Homo sapiens: one gene and its partner. The protein of the gene in region 1 purifies or fractionates together with the protein of each later gene. This does not show direct contact. Each region holds a gene or a part of one and is shown in the gene's direction. Other genes may lie near its edges. The genes, in order: SETMAR and SETX.

Evidence for each region.
Region 2: the proteins of SETMAR (region 1) and SETX purify together in Homo sapiens (affinity purification with mass spectrometry; 2 studies listed by BioGRID and IntAct, with this or other methods). This does not show direct contact.

What each region holds. Positions count from the first base shown.
Region 1 is NC_000003.12:4,313,326-4,318,019, forward strand, and holds the end of SETMAR (histone-lysine N-methyltransferase SETMAR), read left to right. Parts: coding exon 1-436; coding exon of another isoform or gene 437-514; exon of another isoform or gene 515-1,070; intron 1,071-2,070; coding exon of another isoform or gene 2,071-2,163; exon of another isoform or gene 2,164-2,242; intron 2,243-2,886; coding exon 2,887-3,921; 3' UTR 3,922-3,940; downstream 3,941-4,694. UniProt on the Homo sapiens protein: Protein derived from the fusion of a methylase with the transposase of an Hsmar1 transposon that plays a role in DNA double-strand break repair, stalled replication fork restart and DNA integration.
Region 2 is NC_000009.12:132,295,929-132,303,225, reverse strand, and holds part of SETX (probable helicase senataxin), read left to right. Parts: intron 1-2,422; coding exon 2,423-2,596; intron 2,597-4,913; coding exon 4,914-5,146; intron 5,147-6,171; coding exon 6,172-6,339; intron 6,340-7,197; coding exon 7,198-7,297. UniProt on the Homo sapiens protein: Probable RNA/DNA helicase involved in diverse aspects of RNA metabolism and genomic integrity.

The sequences.
Region 1 (4,694 bases):
CATCAGGGAACATGTTTATAATGGGCAGGTAATGGAAACATTTGTTGACCCTACTTATATAGGAAATATTGGAAGATTCCTTAATCATTCTTGTGAGCCAAACCTTTTGATGATTCCTGTCCGAATTGACTCAATGGTACCTAAGTTGGCACTTTTTGCAGCCAAAGATATTGTGCCAGAAGAAGAACTCTCTTATGATTATTCAGGAAGATATCTTAATCTAACAGTCAGTGAAGACAAAGAAAGGCTAGATCATGGGAAACTAAGGAAACCTTGTTACTGTGGTGCCAAATCATGTACTGCTTTCCTGCCTTTTGACAGTTCTCTGTACTGCCCCGTAGAAAAGTCGAACATCAGTTGTGGAAATGAGAAGGAACCCAGCATGTGTGGCTCAGCCCCTTCTGTGTTCCCCTCCTGCAAGCGATTGACCCTTGAGGTGAGTCTGTTCAGTGATAAGCAGCTTGCCCCTCCCTATAGTGGAAGACAGTGGTTGGCTAGCTTTACCTCTGCCTAGTTACATAAGTTTAACTCAGGAATGTGGCAGAGACTGCAAGTTGTCCATCAGTATCCTTTCCCCTTTCTGTAATAGAATTCTCCATTTAACAAAAGTACATGACTACCCAGAATACTCACTTTCCTAGTTAGATTTGTCTTAGTGACTGTTCTAGTTAATAGGATATAAGCAAAAATGACAAGTCCTTAAATGGAGATATCCTGCCCTTCACCTCCTCTTTCTTCCTGCTGGCTGGAATGTATACATGATGACTGGAACTGGAGCAGTCATCCTAGACCCCAGGATGACCCTGGGAAAGGAAGCCATTGCATAGAAAAATCAACAAGGTTAAAAGGAGTCTAGGTGTCTGGTACTGTAGAACATCCTGTCAGTCGTGATCTGACACCTTTGTACTTTCAGGTGAGAAATAGTCTCTCCCTTGCTTAAGTCACTGTTATTGTAAGTTTTCTAGCACTAACATCGAACCTAATAATGATCCAAGAAACCCTTGTGGCTGCATACCTAAACCCTGCTTGCCAACCAATTTTAACAGTAATAAAGCTGACTTTTTGATTTCTGTCTGACTCCTGCGTCCTACTTAATTGTTTCTAAGCATGGATCAAGGAAAAAGGCATTATTAACTATCACCTGCTAAAACCCTAATAAGTACTACCAGTAGTGAAAAATATAACTATGAAAATGACTTACATGTTGTAACCAAAAGTCAGAAAAAGAGACACATTGTAAATTTTTCATTTTCATTATATACTTGGCTGTACTCCAAATCTTGTGAAGTTATGCTTCAAAACTTCAAACAGCCTCACTTCATGTATAAATAACAGAAAAATAACCCTGTCCACACCACAGAAGGAGACGGGAGTTTTATGATCCCGTTTAAACTTCTAGAGCAGCAAACATCTCTAACTACCTTCCTTAAAGCAGGGATGTTGCAAAAATACAGTTACTGTGGAGGTTTATCAGACATTTTGAAAGCTAAAATAATTACTAGAGCCCCTATGATATTATTAAGTAATTTAATTTCTTCTCTAGTACATTTAAACCCTACCACTAGGAGGCCCTGCACTTTCAACATTATAGGAATCCATGTTATATATAACACTATTCCTCTGTAATATAAGTACATTGTACACTTTAAATGAGTGAAATATACAGCGTGTGAATTATATCTCAATAAAGCTAGGTCGTTTTTAAGTATCTTAGGGTTTATAATGTTCATATAACATTACATGGAATGGTTCCCTGTGAACAAATGGTACTAGAGTACACATAAAATGCCCCAAATTACAAATACATAGTATCAAAAATTTTCCTCCAAATTAATCATTTCTCCATGCCAACTGTCCTCTATTACTTCAATGCCTCTGAAGCAGTCCTGCTTTTAATAAGGCAGCTTGTATCCCTCACTCCAAAATGTGCTTTTTCTTGCTCACAAGCTCACCTAATAACTGAGCTGCTTCAGACGCAATATGGAAGTGGTTAGAAGGAAAATGATTGGCTCACCATTTGATTCTGCAGATACCCTTTTCTATGTCCTTTTGCCTTTCTATATTGAACAGCAGAGATATTCCCAGAGGACAATCTTCCATTCAGAGACAAGGACACAAACAGCCCCCTCCAACTCAGTGCCTCTGCCAGAGACAACTGACTGAATATGGACCCCTGGAAATTTTTTGTCCTCAGGCACTAGTTTATTATATAGCACTTAATCCTAGAAACCAGATTCCTAAGGTAAGAGTCAAAGAGTCTTTATTCCAAGTCTTTTCTAAGCAGCAAGTTAACTGCATTTGTTTGCTTCATTGCCATATTTTTGAGAATGTTGACACTTCTTTTGAGAGAAAACATTTAAAAATATACTTCCACTTGACTATTATCCCATGATAAAATAACATTTTTATAAATTATAAGATTCAAATTTTAAAAGATGGGGCTGGGTGCAGTGGCTCACACCTGTAATCCCAGCACTTTGGGAGGCTGAGGCAGGCAGAACACTTGAGCTTGGGAGTTTGAGACCACCCTGGCCAACATGGTGAAACCCCATCTCTACTAAAAATACAAAAATTAGTTAGATGTGGTGGCACATGTCTGTAGTCCCAGCTACTCAGGAGGCTGAGGTACGAGAATCACTTGAGCCCAGGAGGCAGAGGTTGCAGTGAGCCAAGACTGTACCACTGCACTCCAGCTTGGGTGACAGAGCGAGACTCTGTCTCAAAAAAAAAAAAAAAAAAAAAAGTAACAGTTTTTGCATTGTTGGAATTTGGTATTTGATATTGGAATACATTCTTAAATGTGGTCATGTTATACACCATTTTAATGAGCATTTCTTTATGTTTTTTTGCTAATGACATCTTACTTGCTGTTTATGTTTATTTTAGACTATGAAAATGATGTTAGACAAAAAGCAAATTCGAGCAATTTTCTTATTCGAGTTCAAAATGGGTCGTAAAGCAGCAGAAACAACTCGCAACATCAACAATGCATTTGGCCCAGGAACTGCTAACGAACGTACAGTGCAGTGGTGGTTCAAGAAGTTTTGCAAAGGAGATGAGAGCCTTGAAGATGAGGAGCGTAGTGGCCGGCCATCAGAAGTTGACAACGACCAGTTGAGAGCAATCATCGAAGCTGATCCCCTTACAACTACACGAGAAGTTGCTGAAGAACTCAATGTCAACCATTCTACGGTCGTTCGACATTTGAAGCAAATTGGAAAGGTGAAAAAGCTCGATAAGTGGGTGCCTCATGAGCTGACTGAAAATCAAAAAAATCGTCGTTTTGAAGTGTCATCTTCTCTTATTCTACGCAACCACAACGAACCATTTCTCGATCGGATTGTGACGTGTGATGAAAAGTGGATTTTATATGACAACCGGCGACGATCAGCTCAGTGGTTGGATCAAGAAGAAGCTCCAAAGCACTTCCCAAAGCCAATCTTGCACCCAAAAAAGGTCATGGTCACTATTTGGTGGTCTGCTGCTGGTCTGATCCACTACAGCTTTCTGAATCCCGGTGAAACCATTACATCTGAGAAGTATGCTCAGGAAATCGATGAGATGAACCAAAAACTGCAACGCCTGCAGCTGGCATTGGTCAACAGAAAGGGCCCAATTCTTCTCCACGACAATGCCCGACCGCATGTTGCACAACCCACACTTCAAAAGTTGAATGAATTGGGCTATGAAGTTTTGCCTCATCCACCGTATTCACCTGACCTCTTGCCAACCAACTACCACGTCTTTAAGCATCTCAACAACTTTTTGCAGGGAAAACGCTTCCACAACCAGCAGGATGCAGAAAATGCTTTCCAAGAGTTCGTCGAATCCCAAAGCACGGATTTTTACGCTACAGGAATAAACCAACTTATTTCTCGTTGGCAAAAATGTGTTGATTGTAATGGTTCCTATTTTGATTAATAAAAATGCGTTGAGCCTAGTTATAATGATTTAAAATTCACAGTCCAAAACCGCAGTTAGTTTTGCACCAACCCAATATCTTCATAGATTGAAATATAAATTAAAATTGCATTTGAAGTAGATTCCACGGACTTTATTAAGAATGTAGAAATGTGGCCTGGCATGGTGGCTTACAACTGTAATCCCAGCACTTTGGGAGGCCCAGGCGGGCAGATCACTTGAGTCCAATTGTTCAGGACCAGCCTGGGCAACATAGTGAGACCCTGACTCTAATAAAATAATTTTTTAAAAAAAGATTAAAACATGTACCTTGAAAAGCATTTTGGCCCAAGAATAATAACGATCACACTTGAAGAACAAAGCTTTTCTTTAAAAAAATTTTCCTTTAATTTTCAAATTACTATTCACAAAATAGCAGTGGCTGTTAGATTTTGTTCTTGGCCAAATGGAAAATTTTGCCCTAATTAAAATGTAGTCACTCTCCAGTGTGTTACCATTGAACAAATCACTGAACCTTTCCAAGTCAAAGTTTCCTTAGTTGGGAAGATTGAGTTAACACATGCAAAGGGGTTAGAGCAATGCCTGAGTATATAGAAAGTATTCAATAAATGTAAATTATTAGTCTTGAGAACTGTCTGTAGGATGTGACCCAAAGTTCTCCCTTCTATTCAGGTGTAATTAGGATATAATGTCCTTCAAATGGCAGACTTAAAGGGGGAAAAAGTCACTAAGAGGTGACCAGAAGGGTTAGAGCTGAGCAAGAGAGGTTCCTG
Region 2 (7,297 bases), on another chromosome or scaffold:
CATAGCAAGACGCTGTCTCTACAGAAAAGTAAAAAAAAAAATTAGCTGAGCATGGTGGCACACACCTAGAGTCCCAGTGACATGGGAGGCTGAGGCAGGAGGATTTCTTGAGCCCAAGTGTTCAAGGCTGCAGTGAGCTGTGATCATACCACTGCATTCCAGTCTGGGAGATAGAACAAGACCCAATCTCTAAAAAAATAAATCAAAAACAATGTAAAAATAGGTGCTCAGTTTTAGTGTTACTTGTTAAAAAAAATGTAGCCTTTCTCATTGAATAACCTTGCCATTCAATAACTTGGCATATTTGTCGGAATATCAGTTGATCTTGATTGCAGGTCTGCTTTTAAACACCGTTTTCTTTATCTGTATAGCTGCCTTCCACCAATACCACAGTCTCTTATTGTTGTTTTATAAAAAATACTGAAATTGGATAGTCAGCCTTTCAGTTTTGTTCTTTGTAAAAAGTTTCTTTTTATTGTCATCAGTTTTAGAATCAACTTGTCAACATTTATAAAAATGCCTGCTGGTTTTTTTTTTTTTTTTTGCTTTTTTTTTTTTTTTTTTTGAGACAAAGTCTCACTCTTGTTGCCCAGGCTGGAGTGCAATGGCGCAATCTTGGCTCACAGCAATCTCCACCTCCCAGGTTCAAGCGATTCTCCTGCCTCAGCCTCCCAAGTAGCTGGGATTACAGGCGCCTGCCACGACGCCTGGCTAATTTTTGTATTTTTAGTAGAGATGGGGTTTCACCATGTTGGCCAGGCTGGTCTCAAACGCCTGACCTCAGGTGATCCGCCCGTCTCGGCCTCCCAAAGTGCTGGGATTACAGGCGTGAGCCACCACACCTGGCCTTTTTTTTTTTTTTTTTTTTTGAGATGGATTCTTGCTCTGTCACCCAGGCTGGAGTGCAGTGGTGTGATCTCGGCTCACTGCAAGCTCCGCCTCCTGGGTTCACGTCATTCTCCTGCCTCGGCCTCCCGAGTAGCTGGGACTACAGATGCCTGCCACCATGCCCGGCTAATTTTTTGTATTTTTAGTAGAGACGGGGTTTCACCGTGTTGGCCAGGATGTTCTCGATCTCCTGACCTCATGATCCACCTGCCTTGGCCTCCCAGAGTGCTGGGATTACAGGCGTGAGCCACTGTGCCTGGCGGCCATCTGCTGGTATTTTTACTAGGATTGCTTTGACTCTAAAGATTAATTTGGGGACAGCTGACATTTTAACAATATTAAGTCTTAGGCCTTGAACTTAGTACATTTCTTCATTTGTTCAGGCTGTCTTCAGTTTCTCTCAGCAGTGGTTTGTATTTTTCAGAGTATAGGGCTAGATTCGGCAGTTGGTACTGAACTTTATTCCAGTGCTTTCTCTGTTTTCCTAGTCCCATGTAGTTTACAACCGTCTTTCCCCACTTGTTTGAAATGCGTAGAAGTTGCAAAATTCTTGTATGTACAATCACATGTCACTTAATGATGGGGATACATTCTCAGAAATGTGTCAGGCGATTTCATCATCATGCCAACATCATGAGAAGTAAGAGTGTACTTAGAGGAACCTAGGCGGTGTAGCCTACCACACACCTAGTCTGCCAACCTGTACAGCATGTTACCGTATTGAATACTGTAGGTAATTGTAACATGGGGAAGTATTTGTGTATCTAAACATAGAAAAGATACAGTAAAAATATATTATAATCTTATGGGACCACTGTTGTATATATCCGGTCCATCACTGACCACAACATCATTATGCGGTGTATAACTACTTGGATCTGTTTCCGAATTTTCTTCGGGGGTTTTGAAAGTTGGAAACAAATGAGAGAAATTTAGTTAAAAACCAGAATAGGCCAGGCACAGTGGCTCACCCCTGTAATCCCAGCACTTTGGGAGGCTGAGGCGGGCGGATCACGAGGTCAGGAGATCGAGACCATCCTGGCTAACACAGTGAAACCCCATCTCTACTAAAAATACAAAAAAATTAGCCGGGCGTGGTGGCGGGCGCCTCCAGCTATTTGGGAGGCTAAGGCAGGAGAATGGCGAGAACCTGGGAGGCTGAGCTTGCAGTGACCCGAGATCGCGCCACTGCACTCCAGCCTGGGCAACACAGCGAGACTCCATCTCAAAAAAAAAAAAAAAAAAAAAAGCAGAATAAACCTAAAGGAAAGAAAATTTATTAGCTACTTTTCAATATTATAGTTTTGTCTATTTTGGCCTTATAGCAGTTTTGAAGAAAACTATATTCTATAATTGATATTTTTAATATTTGAAGTTTTTGATTGGATTAGATTACCATTTTAAAGTATATGCAGAGTCCTTTAGTGCTGTGTATTTTTGAACTTAATACAAGGATTTAATTTCTTTTAAGTTAATCTTATTTAAAATAATTCTATTAGAGTTATATGAATTCCGACTTCTTCTTGTTTCATAGTTTATCTGGAAGAATGTGAACTGGCTAAACAGCTTTATCCAAAGGAAAACGATTTGGTGTTTTTAGCTCCTGAGAGAATAAATGAAGAGAAGAAAGATACAGAGAGAAATGACATACAAGATCTCCACGAATATCATTCTGGTTATGTTCATAAATTTCGCCGCACGTCAGTCAGTAAGTAAATAATGAGGCATTGACAGGAAATGTCAGATACAGTCTCATCTAATAATCTACTTCTCAATTGTGTATATCAAGTGTATTTGATAGACATTTACCGAACATGTTTTTGCTATGTTGATTACATGGCCATTCAGAGTCTCTTTTCTAGTTTTTCTAGACTTAACTGGAAAAGACCTTGTATTTATTTTTGTAATGTTCTATCCTTTTGTTACATTTCTTTATCCATCATTGTGTTTGCTATAAAATGGACCATTTGCAGACCATCTGTTGTTTGTTAAATTACATTTCATCCTTGGTTTTGTGGCCAATTACTAATGAGATGACCAAACATAAAACTCACTGTAAGGCAGCTTGAGGAATCTGCTTACATCACTTCCATCCGTTGTATGTTTCTCCCTAGGTAATTTAATAACAAAAATATTAGCCTAAATTTAATGAATACCAGATGTATGCAGTGAGACTTGTCCCTTTTTTTTTTTTTTTTTTTTTTTTTGAGACGGAGTTTCACTCTTGTTGTCCAGGCTAGAGTGCAGTGGTGCTGTATCGGCTCACTGCACTCTCCGCCTCTTGGGTTCAAGCGATTCTCCTGCCTCAGCTTCCCAAGTAGCTGGGATTATAGGCATCCGCCACCAGTCCCGGCTAATTTTTTGTGTTTTTAGTGGAGACGGGGTTTCACCATGTTGACTAGGCTGGTCTCGAACTCCTCACCCCCATCAACCTCCCAAAGTGCTGGGATTACAGGCGTGAGCCACCGCGCCCAGCCGAGACTTGTCCTTCTTATGTACATTTATAATCTTCCCCAAAGCCCCAAAAGGTAGAAGAAATTATTCCTTGCTCCCCAGGAAATCATGGTTCAGGGATGTTAAGTAAACCTATTTTCAAGGCTGTCATCAGTGTTAATTGGTAAGTCCAGAATTGAAGCCTGCTTTTGTTGACTGCAAAGTCCACATTGTTTTTCTTATGCCAAACTGCCTTTTTGGCAATTGCAACTTTTTTAGTCTTAGTTATGTGAAGAGAAGAACATTATTTCATTATTCCTTCTCCTTTTTGCATGATATATTAATATAGCAATAAAGTGTGTCAACATTGTACTGCATTATAACAGGTGTACCATGTTTATTTGTGTGATCAGGGCTTAATTCTGTAGAATATAGGATACATTTAGAAGAGTTGCAGTGAGGATTGATGGCTTACTCTGTGCTTTTGGCTCTTGAAAATGATTACCTTTGCCAAATTTATAGTTCTAAGGCAGTCTCATTCCCTGAACTCCTCATAGATCAAAATCATGTCTTGGATACCTCCATTTGGAAATGTGTTAGACATTTCAAATCCACTAGTCCAAAAGTTAACACTTGATTTTCTGCCTGACATCTGCACTTCCTTCATTCTTTCCCATCTTGTTAATTGGGGCCTCACTTCTTTCAGTTACTCAGGCCAAAAACCTTGGAGTTATCCATGATCCTTACTTTCTCTCACACCTCACTTCTAATTTGTCAGCAGATATGATTGATTTTTCCTTTGCAATATATCCCAAATCCAGTTCCCACGTCTACTAGTGCCTCCTGGTCCAAGCTGTCATTAACTTTTACCTAAATTACTATGGTAACCTTGTAAGTGGTCTTTTTGTTTCTGTACTTTTCTCATTGTAGTTATTCTTTGTTCTGAGGTAAGAGTGGTTCTTTTAGTTTGTGAGATAGAGCATGTTATTTCCCTACACAGAGTGCCCAATGGTTTTCTACCCTGATCCTGAATAGCGTTCAGAGTCATTACTGTGATCTGCACAGCCCTATAAAATGTAGCCCCGTTTTACTCTGAGTCGCTAAGCGTTCTTCTCCCTATTTTTCCTTCTATCCATGTTAGCCTTCTCCCTATTTCTAAAATATTCCTGGCACATCTCTGTCTTACGATCTTTGCAGTTGCTTATTTTCTGCATGTAGTACTATTTACCCTCTGCTGAGTACTGTTTACTCCCTTACTTCAAGTCTCTGCTCAAATATTTCATCAGGAAGACCTTCTCGGACCAGCTTATCTGCCTCCATCCCCATCACTTCCTCCCTTTGTGTGCTTTCTTCAGAGCACTTACTACCACCTGACATATTTATTTGGTTATCTGCCTCCATCTTCTAGAAAATAAGCCTCCGGAGGACAGAACATTACTGGGTTCAGGAAGCAGTCCATAAATATTTACTGGGTAAATTATGTAAATAATATCCAAAAATATGTTAAAAATACCTAATTCTGCATGACCTTTACAACTAGGCAGCATTATTCAGTGATAACTGAAGTTGCTTTTTCTCTTTCTTGATGATAGTGCGTAATGGGAAAACTGAGTGTTACCTTTCCATCCAGACTCAAGAGAACTTTCCGGCCAATTTAAACGAACTTGTGAATTGTATTGTAATCAGTTCTCTGGTAACTACACAAAGGAAGTTGAAAGCCATGTCTCTGTTGGGTAGTCGGAACCAACTGGCTAGAGCTGTTCTGAATCCAAACCCTATGGACTTCTGTACAAAAGATTTACTGACTACAACATCTGAGAGAATTGTGAGTGATGATGTATGATACTAGATAATTTCATGTTAAGATGTTAAAGCATCATATTTTTTAGCTGCTATGTATTCCTATATGTTTACAACAAAAATGTGTTCACGGTGAACAGTTTAGTGTTAGTTTTCTTTAGTATTGCAAAGTATGTAATTTAGGTTAAGTCAGCTCACTTCAGGAAAAGGTACAGTACAATAAGCGTCGAAGGTTGCTGGAAGAGCAACATTAAAATGTTAGGTCAGCAGCCTACTTAATGTGCATTAGGTGAGAAGTCTCAGGTTTAGTGGTGTTAAATTTACATTTGAATGATTGATGGAGAATTGGCCGGTATTGTTGGAAATGCAAAGATGAAGTTGTCAACTGAACATGTGAAGCTGTGTATAAACTCTAGGAAGTTAACAGAGAAATGCAAAAGGAAACTAACTATTTAGAAACTCTAGAGCTGTATGCTATGGCTTTCATGTGCATTATCTCAGTCTGTTCTCACCTCTTAAGGAATCCTAGATTTAATGAGTAACAGAGGCCAAGGCTTGGGTTAGGAGCGTAGTGGCCTAGCTTGTAAGTGCAAGTGAAGCTTACACCCAGATCTTCCCCTGGCATACATGCTTTTTCCACTGTATCACATGTGCTAGGAAATAAATAGTCTTGGGATGTTTTCACTAAGGAGAAAATTGACTAAAGAAGGAAAAAAACAGAGTAGTAAATAGAAGAAAAGTTGTGGATTAGTAAATGCAATTTATTGTGATTATCTTTGTAAGAATAAAAAATAAAAGTACAGTTGTATTTGTAAGTACTTGAAGCGTTACAGACACTAATTAGTAATTAGTAAGTAATTAGCTTTCTTTCCAGTAGTGAACGTGCTTTTTAGATTAAAGGTCACTTTGGTGTCCTTGTCTTGTCTGACCATAACCAAAGCTTTTGTCTCATGCATTGAAAGAAATTTGGACAGGTCTTTTTCATGTTCTTCCTTTCAAATTCCACTACAGAAACAGCAACTCATTCTCAAAAATGTGTTTTTTATATAGATTGCGTACTTAAGAGATTTCAATGAAGATCAAAAGAAAGCAATAGAAACTGCATATGCTATGGTGAAACACTCACCATCAGTTGCCAAAATCTGCTTGATTCATGGACCACCTGGAACAGGAAAATCAAAAACTATTGTTGGCCTCCTCTATCGTCTACTGACAGAGGTAGGTATGGGTGAGGGCACTGATGCTGTTAACTAGCTGTATCATTTTACTTTACTTGAGTTAACTGACATGTAAATAAGTATTAACATGCCATTTCCTCTTTGATTTGTATATATTTTTTATATTGTGTGTAACTGTGTCAGAGAAAAGGGTGGCAGAGGGAGGGAAGGTTATGGGAAATAAAAAGAGGAAAAAACCACTATCTTATGTGAAACAAATCGTAAGGACTAGAATGATGGTCTTCAGGCTTCACGGTAGGTCACGTAGAATGCTGTGAATGCTGGGCTGCATTTTGGTTGGATTGTGGTTTTTTGTTTTTTTTTTTTGAGACAGTGTCTCGCTGTCATCCAGGTTAGGGTACAGTGGCACGATCTTGACTCACAGCAACCTCTGCCTCCCAGGTCAAGTGATTCTCCTGCCTCAGCCTCCCGAGTACCTCCCTAGTGGCTGGGATTACAGGCGTACACCACCACCCACAGCTAATTTTTGTATTTTTAGTAGAGATGGGGTTTCGCCATGTTGGCCAGGCTGGTCTCGAGCTCCTGACCTCAAGTGATCCGCCCGCCTCGGCCTCCCGAAGTGCTGGGATTACAGGCGTGAGCCACTGTGCCTGGCTTGGATTGAGTATTCATTAAAGTAAGTGGATGATAAAGTAAGGCTCAGAGCAGTTATGACAAATTTTTTTGCTGGAGTAATTTTAAATATCAGTGTTAGATGTAGATGCTTTTATTTATTTTTAACTTTATTACGAGAACTTTCAAAAATACATGGAAGTAAAGACAAACTTTAAAGCTATGTAATAGAGCTCACCCATATTTTTTGTGTGTTTGTTTGGTATGTATATGTGGCAAATTGTAGAACCAGAGGAAGGGGCATTCAGACGAAAACTCCAATGCCAAAATCAAACAAAACCGTGTCCTCGTGTGTGCACCTTCCAATGCAGCTGTTGATGAACTCA